Homo sapiens: one gene and its partner. The protein of the gene in region 2 interacts with the protein of the main gene of each other region in a pairwise test. Each region holds a gene or a part of one and is shown on either strand. Other genes may lie near its edges. The genes, in order: DCC and HEMGN.

The links.
Region 1: the proteins of HEMGN (region 2) and DCC interact in a two-hybrid assay, tested with the Homo sapiens proteins (one large-scale study listed by BioGRID and IntAct).

What each region holds. Positions count from the first base shown.
Region 1 is NC_000018.10:53,207,380-53,211,209, reverse strand, and holds part of DCC (netrin receptor DCC), read right to left. Parts: intron 3,532-3,830; coding exon 3,393-3,531; intron 1-3,392. UniProt on the Homo sapiens protein: Receptor for netrin required for axon guidance. Mediates axon attraction of neuronal growth cones in the developing nervous system upon ligand binding. Its association with UNC5 proteins may trigger signaling for axon repulsion.
Region 2 is NC_000009.12:97,931,538-97,935,367, forward strand, and holds part of HEMGN (hemogen), read right to left. Parts: intron 1-3,830. UniProt on the Homo sapiens protein: Regulates the proliferation and differentiation of hematopoietic cells. Overexpression block the TPA-induced megakaryocytic differentiation in the K562 cell model. May also prevent cell apoptosis through the activation of the nuclear factor-kappa B (NF-kB).

The DNA of each region.
Region 1 (3,830 bases), on a different chromosome or scaffold from region 2:
GCCTTCCATTAGTAAGTATTCAAGAAATATTAATAACATTCATAAAAATAATAAGCACATTCTTATGTTGCCTATGAAATCAGGTCCTTCTGCATTTGGACACAGGACAAGCTGGCATGGAAACTTTCAATGGTTCATTCGTTCATAAAAGCTCTTAGTGACTTACCAACTAGTGCAAGAGACAGTATTTTGGAACAAATTGGCAAAATTATTTAGATGATCATATGCTGTATAATCTCAGTGGTGTGAAAAAAAAATGGCTCATTGTAAACCAGTGGTTTTCTAGGTGGAGGAATTTGAATAAAAAATAAGGTTTCTACTCAGAAAATAAAGCCGAGCTAAATTAGAGATGACAGCTCATCTGGACAAAGATCTTTACAAGCATCCCAGTAGAACAGGGAAAAAAAAACATAAAGTAATGAAATTGGAAGAAATGTATTTACACTTAACTTTTGCTTTTTTAAAAATTTTTCTATGTCTCAATATATTTTTTATGGTAAGACTCCTGATATGAAAAGAATTATTATGTTCACTATAATACAGATGCATTTAGACACAGTCATATATTAAATTAATATATCAAATTAGTTCCACAAATGGGAAATCCTAAAGATAAGCCTTTGCATACAGAAATTTGCACAGTTTTGACTGAGCTGTCTAATTAATTCGATAAATATTTACTCAGGAAGAAAACAGAGGTGAATATAACAGCATCCTTCATATTTAGGGGTATTTAATATTAATATAATGAGAAAAAGTGAAGTGCACTTTGGTAGAGATAATGTTTATTAAACACTTAAATGTCATACACTTTGTTAGATGTTTACACAGATCAGCCCATTTAATTTTCACAACATCCACCTGTTACAACATACATAAAGTTAACGAAGAAGAGTGCTCCATGACTGAAGACTGGGAAGCAGGTGACTATTAAATGTGATTAAATACAACTCAATGTGATATATGACCTCAGCATGAACAGCTTCAGGACAGAGGAGGAGACATGAGATTGAAGTAGACAGAAAGGAACTGGATAATAAGGAAATGAAAGCCAAGAGCCACACATTTGTGTTGGACATTAAAAGAGATGGGTTGATTGTAAAAATGAATGCAAACGAGGTCACGGTGTCCACTCTAAGAAGCTTATAAAGTCCTTGCTATCTCCTTTCAGTGCATTTGAGAGAGAGAATTTGGTGTCCTTTGCACAGTGATGTTTATTGGGGTTAGGGTCACGAAATACTTTTTTTATACTGACAGACACTGTCTAAGTCCTAAACATTGTAACATTTCCAGAAGATAATTCTTGGACTAATGAATAATAATCTATCTTTCTCACTTATGACATTTAAAACCAAAGTGGAGAATCAGGCCACAGTATTACAGTTCAGAGTGAATGAAATCTACATAAATTATGTAAAACATTCACTTTCATTTGTTTTTCTTTTATTTTTATAATTATAAGTTGTGAAGTAATTTATTCTACCAATAAATATTCTGTTCTGTCTTCAATAACAGAATTGGATGGATGGGCCTAAGAATTACATTAAAAATGATACCAAAGTGGTATTACGTATAAAATACATTTTAAAGTTGAATTTGCAAATGAGCATTATTCCTGTGTTCTCTTTGTACTGTCCTTAATAATATGCATGCCCTTCCTCATTTCACTGATATTGTGTGAAATGTACACCCAGGTACTTTCCCAGAATAAACAATGATAGATCTGTCAAGAAATCACAAGCTAAAGTCATTTTTTAATTAAAAAGATAAATAATTTATAGAATTAAACACACCAAATGGAAATTGTTGCTGAAAAGAGCTAGCTTGTGGCCTTTTTTAATATTCACAAGGGCCTATCGCTACATTTCTGCACCTGCCTGAGTTTTCGTTGGCCCCACATCATATACTTTGATGTATTTTATTTTCACTTTTTATAAAATTTCCCAACCTTTCATGATCATCTAGCAGTTAGGTTTCTAGTTTCCCCTGGCCATTATTTTGTCAAATTTATTCTCTTTATTAAGATTTGTTCCTCTCTTTTATGGCATTCAAAAACAGGTCTAGCCTGGGCAACAAAGTGAGACCCTGCCTCTGCAAAAAATAAAAATATTAGCTGGGTGCTGTGGCCTATGCCTGTAGTTCCAGCTACTCGGGAGGCTTCGGCAGGAAAATCCCTTGAGGCTGGGTGCAGTGGCTCACGCTTGTAATCCCAGCACTATGTGAGGCCAAGGCGGGTGGATCACTTGAGGTCAGGAGTTCCAGACCAGCCTGCTCAGCATGGTGAAACTCTGTCTCTACTAAAAATACAAAAACTAGCCAGGGGTGGTGGCATGCACCTGTAATCCCAGGTACTCAGGAGGCTGGGGGCAGGAGAATCACTTAAACCCGAGAGGTGGAGGTTGCAGTGAGCTGAGACTGCACCACTGCATGCCAACCTGGGTGACAGAGCGAGACTCCGTTTCCAAAAAAGGAAAAGAAAAGAAAAGCCCTTGAGCCCAGGAATAAAGGGTGTAGTGAAGCACAATTGAGTCACTGCACTTCTTGTCTCAAATGTGTGTGTTTGTGTCTATTCTTCCATTTAGTAGGCAACATACACATTTTTCATGCTCAATTTTAATACTTTAAATTTTAATATCAGCTTATTTGGCCTAATTCCTTTTGATATATTTTCTAATTAAGAGGTAAATATAGGGGGATTGTCTATCATTTACACCTTTAATCATCTGCACACTTTTAGATGGGGGAATAAAACATGCCAATCAAAATTAATCCACACATGCACAAATGTGTATTAGAAAATGTAAAGAAATAAAAAATACACAAAGTTTTAGCTCTTAGTCAATAGTCACATTTTGAGGATTACCTATTAGTATATACTGACTCAAGAGTATATACATATGTATATACATATATACATATATATTTATTTAATTTGGAGAAAGGGTCTTACTCTGTTGCCCAGGCTGGAGTGCAGTAGAACGATCACAGCTTACTGCAGTCTTGAACTCCCAGGCTCAAGTGATCCTCCAGAATGAGCCTCCCAAGTAGCTGGGATCGCAGGTGCATGCCACCATATCCAGTTAATTAAAAAAAAAAAAAAAAAACATTTACAGAGATAGGGTCTCACTATGTTGTTCAGGTGGGTCTTGAACTCCTAGGCTTAACTCATCCTCCTGCCTCAGTCTCTTAAAGTGCTAGGATTACCTGTGTGAACTACCACATCCAGCTGGGAGTATGTATCTTGATAGAAAGTTTACATTTAACTGTAATAGTCCATAAAATTTTAGTCAGGAAGCCTTGAAAATGGAATATATGATATATGTGCAATATCATGTCATTATTGTCAATATTATGTCAAATATGTAAAAGGAGTTTCACTGTTTTTAACTTACCGTCAGAAAGTGTAACCACTGTTATATCATCAGTAGAGACGCCCGGACCATAGCGATTATAAGCTAAGAATCGAAGACTATATTCGGTGAATTTTTTCAGGCCTTCCAGTTTATAAGATAGTCCATCAACCTCTATATTCTGGAGACATAAAACACCAAAACTGTTATCAAGGAAGCACATTAAAGTAGAAATGGCACTCATTCTGTGCAATCAGTGAATTGGACATTAGACTCTTACAAACTACACTCCAGCCTTCTAATGAGCTATAAAACCTACCTTGTGACACAGACTCCCCCACTAAAAACCAACTAATCTGTAGACTCCTTGTTAAAACAGCACATGCTATTTTTACAGTCATTAAGTTCCAATTTGTTTAACACTACTCAATGTACTGAATGGTTTGGGTTATTCTACCCACACCTAAACCCTCACAGGCA
Region 2 (3,830 bases):
GAAAATAAATAATTCTCATTACAAATTAATAGAGTGGCATTCTGGTTTATACACTAGTCTCTTTGCATTTAGTCTTTGTGTGTTACTTCCCTACCCCTGAGTAAACTCATACAAATCGAGTTTCTAGACCTGGCACAGCTCCTCGTCTGTGCAGCCTGCAGGTGGATGCTGTATATGGCTTGATTATCAAATACATTATTTTGTGTAAAGAATTCTAAGTTGCTACAGTATATATCAAATGAGGTATACTGTAAGGGGTCAAAAGCTGCAAAAGCACTTCTTGAAGTTAAGAAGTCAGGTAGATAGGCATGAGTGGCCATATTATACCTATTCCTAATTAATAAATTAAAGATCTAGAAGATGAAAGGATATGCATGGTAATTGCAGCCAGTGACAAATTGTTAGGCACTGCAAATACAACCAAATACAGATGGCTAATACAGATGGGCTGGGGGCTGGGGGCTGGGGGAAGTACTATAAATAAGCATTTCATCATTTTTCTAAATCTACTGAAATTCTGTTTCATGCTACCCGCTCCATGGAGCCTTCTCTAAGAGACTACAGGACTAAAATGCTCTCCCAGCTTAGCACTCCTATAGGACTTATTGGGTGTACCATGCTAAAGGCAAGGAATGTAGGCTGCCTCATACTGTAGTTATTTCTGAAGAAACTGTATTTCTTTTAGTAAACATTTTAGACAGTCTTTGGAGATAAAAACCAGTGTTTTTTACATCTTTATAGTGCCCATCGTTCCTTGCATATTTAAAAAAAGTATACCCTGTTCCATTTTTTGTGTATGTTTGAAATTTCCGTTGTAAAAAAGTGTTTTTAAAAGATTACCTCACCAAACACAGTTTGAAGTCAATACCAAAAAAGTATATATGTTCACTTCTAATATGAGGCTATAGAAAAAAAGAAAAAAAGGTATAGATGTAACAGAGCAGTCTAAAATAATATTGAAAATTATATTTAAAAAAGGAAATCTAGGCCGGGTGCGTTGGCTCACGCCTGTAATCCCAGCACTCTGGGAGGCCGAGGCTGGTGGATCACGAGATCAGGAGTTCAAGACCAGCCTGGCCAACATAGTGAAACCCCGTCTCTACTAAAAATACAAAAATTAGCCAGGCATGGTGGTGCGCGTCTGTAATCCCAGCTACTTGGGAGGCTGAGGCAAGAGAATCGCTTGAACCCAGGAGATGGAGGTTGCAGTGAGCTGAGATTGTGCCACTGCACTCCAGCCTGGGTGACAGAATGAGACTCTGTCTCAAAAAAAAAAAAAAAAAGGAAATCTAAAGATGATGGTTATGGCACCTCAGCATTTTGAACTATTACTACAAGTAACCAAGGTGACAAGATAAATCATAAAATTCTGATAAATTTTTTGAAAAAGATATTAATAGTAATCCAAGTTCCTTAGGAAACACATATTTTTTCCTAGATATTAAATCCTAAAGAAGTTGTTATTTAAATCTCTGTATGAGGAGATCTGAGTAATGTAATAGTCCATGTCTTCCCAGGTAGTTTTTCAAAAAATGCAAAAAATACCTATGTGGCCTAAACTTTAGTCTGTACTCTCTCATGGTTGTGGGCAAGTCACTTAACCTCTACATGCCTTGGTTTCCTTGTAAGTGAAATGAGGTAAATAATATCGGCCCAATTTCATGTGGTGGTTATAAGAATTATATATAATAACTTACATGAATGAATTATTCAAATATAAATTAGGACTCATATGAATACAGGAAACACTTATAGTGCTTGTATATGTCAGGCACCGTTTAAATAATTTAGTTATTTTGTTATCTCATATAATCTTCACATCAGTCTATGAAGTAGGTAGTTATTATTTTCATTTTGCAAATGACAAAACTGAAACACAGAGATGTTGAGTAACTTGCCCAACACTTGTATTTGATAATCAAGCCATATACATTATCCACCTGCAGGCTGCACAGATAAGGAGCCGTGCCTGGATTGCAGGTCTAGAAACCCTGAGTATGAGTTTACTCAGGGGTAGTGAAGTAATACACACAGACTAAATGCAAAGAGACTAGTATATAAACCAGAGTGCCAATCTATTCGTTTATAATGAGAATTATTTATTTTCCATAATATTTCCAAGGGCTCTGGCTACCAAGTAGGGGAGCCAGGCTACGAATCTAGTCATTCTGGCTTTAACAGCCAGGCTCATAACCATGCACTCTGCTGCCTCTCTCTGAAACTAATAAAGTTTCACTGTATGGTGTGTTGTAGTGAGAAAAGAGGGCACAGGCCTTAGCATTATAGAGATGTATCACCAGAGCAAGTCCAGCCAGCTGCCAAGAGGCTCACTAAGGTGTTATCCATTTGAGTGAATACCCTCAGCCCAGCAAGCCCAGAAACCTGATTCTGTTAGCACACTGAGACTACCTCCATTTATCAGGGGCAGAGCTCATCAAGCAGATTTAAGGAGACTGACATATAAACCTAAAGACCAATTTTTAAATGAACAGACATACAAAGTCACATAGTAGAAAATACCTGGACTGGCTGGGCACAGTGGCTCACGCCTGTAATCCCAGCACTTTGGGAGGCCAAGGTGGGCGAATCACTTGAAGCCAGGAGTTCCAGACCAGCCTGGCCATCATGGCGAAACCCCGTCTCTACTAAAAAATACAAAAACTAGCTGGGCGTGGTGGCCAGTGCCTGTATTCCCAGCTACTTGGGAGCTGAGGCAGGAGAGTCACTTGAACCTGGGAGGCAGAGGTTGCAGTGAGCCGAGATTGTGCCACTGCACTCCAGCCTGGGCAGCAGAGTGAGACTCTGTCTCAAAACGAGTGAATGAATGAATGAATGAGAGAAAGAGAAAAAAGAAAAGGAGAGGAGAGGGGAGGAGAGAGGAGGGGATGGGGGAGAGGAGGGGGAGGGGAGGGGAGGGGGGAGGGGAGGGGAGGAGAATACCTGGGTTCTGGGCTCCCAAACAAATGCACCGTCTCTGTAGATAAGTACTTGGGAAGCCAAGTAATGATTGGAAGATTGCTTAGTGGTATGGAATTTGGGAGCTAATTGGATAATCTTCAATAGACCTGCCACAGGACCCTAATACAAATATTTCTACTGTAAAATGATACACGTGTTCCTAAAAAAACCTCACTTTCTGCAAAATCATCCTCTATAAAGTTACAGTGGTTATGGAGGTGGGGCAAATAGGCTTGGGACAAATGATTCAAAACCCTTGCAACATTTTAACACTAACTAAAACAATAATTGGTACCAGGAGAGAGAACTTGGATGGTCTAGACAAGCAGTTTACTGTGGCTGGAGGCTGCCTCAGGGGATAGTAAATGCAAATATAGTGTAATTGCAGGCTTGAAGCTGCTGAGACCTGAGCTCTGAGCCAGCGGGGTTGCCGTTAAGTTGGGCACAGGAGGGAAGTGCAAGCTGCCACTTGATGGAGAGCTGCGCAAGGCTGGTGTTGTGCCTCTCTGAGGAGGGAACCCTGGATGCTGGCTGAAAAGAATCCTGCTTATACAACAGCCAAGCTGAAGGCTTTTTCTTTCCAGCTGAAAGCTTTAATTCTCTTCCCACTATTCTGCTTTCTTCTGACTAGGAAAAAATCATGAACCAACACAACCCCCACATTATACTGACATCATTCTCCTATTTATCAATCGTATGTGAACTTGGTGTTATAGAAACATCTGTTGTAGCAGAACAGACAGTGCTCAGTCCACAGCGGGGTTTGGGGATTGGAAAATGCCCTTTCTTAGGAAGAGTGCTTTGCTTAAATTAGTGGTTCTCAACTGGGGATGATTTTGCCTGTCTTCCCCCAACCCCACCCCAGAAGACTT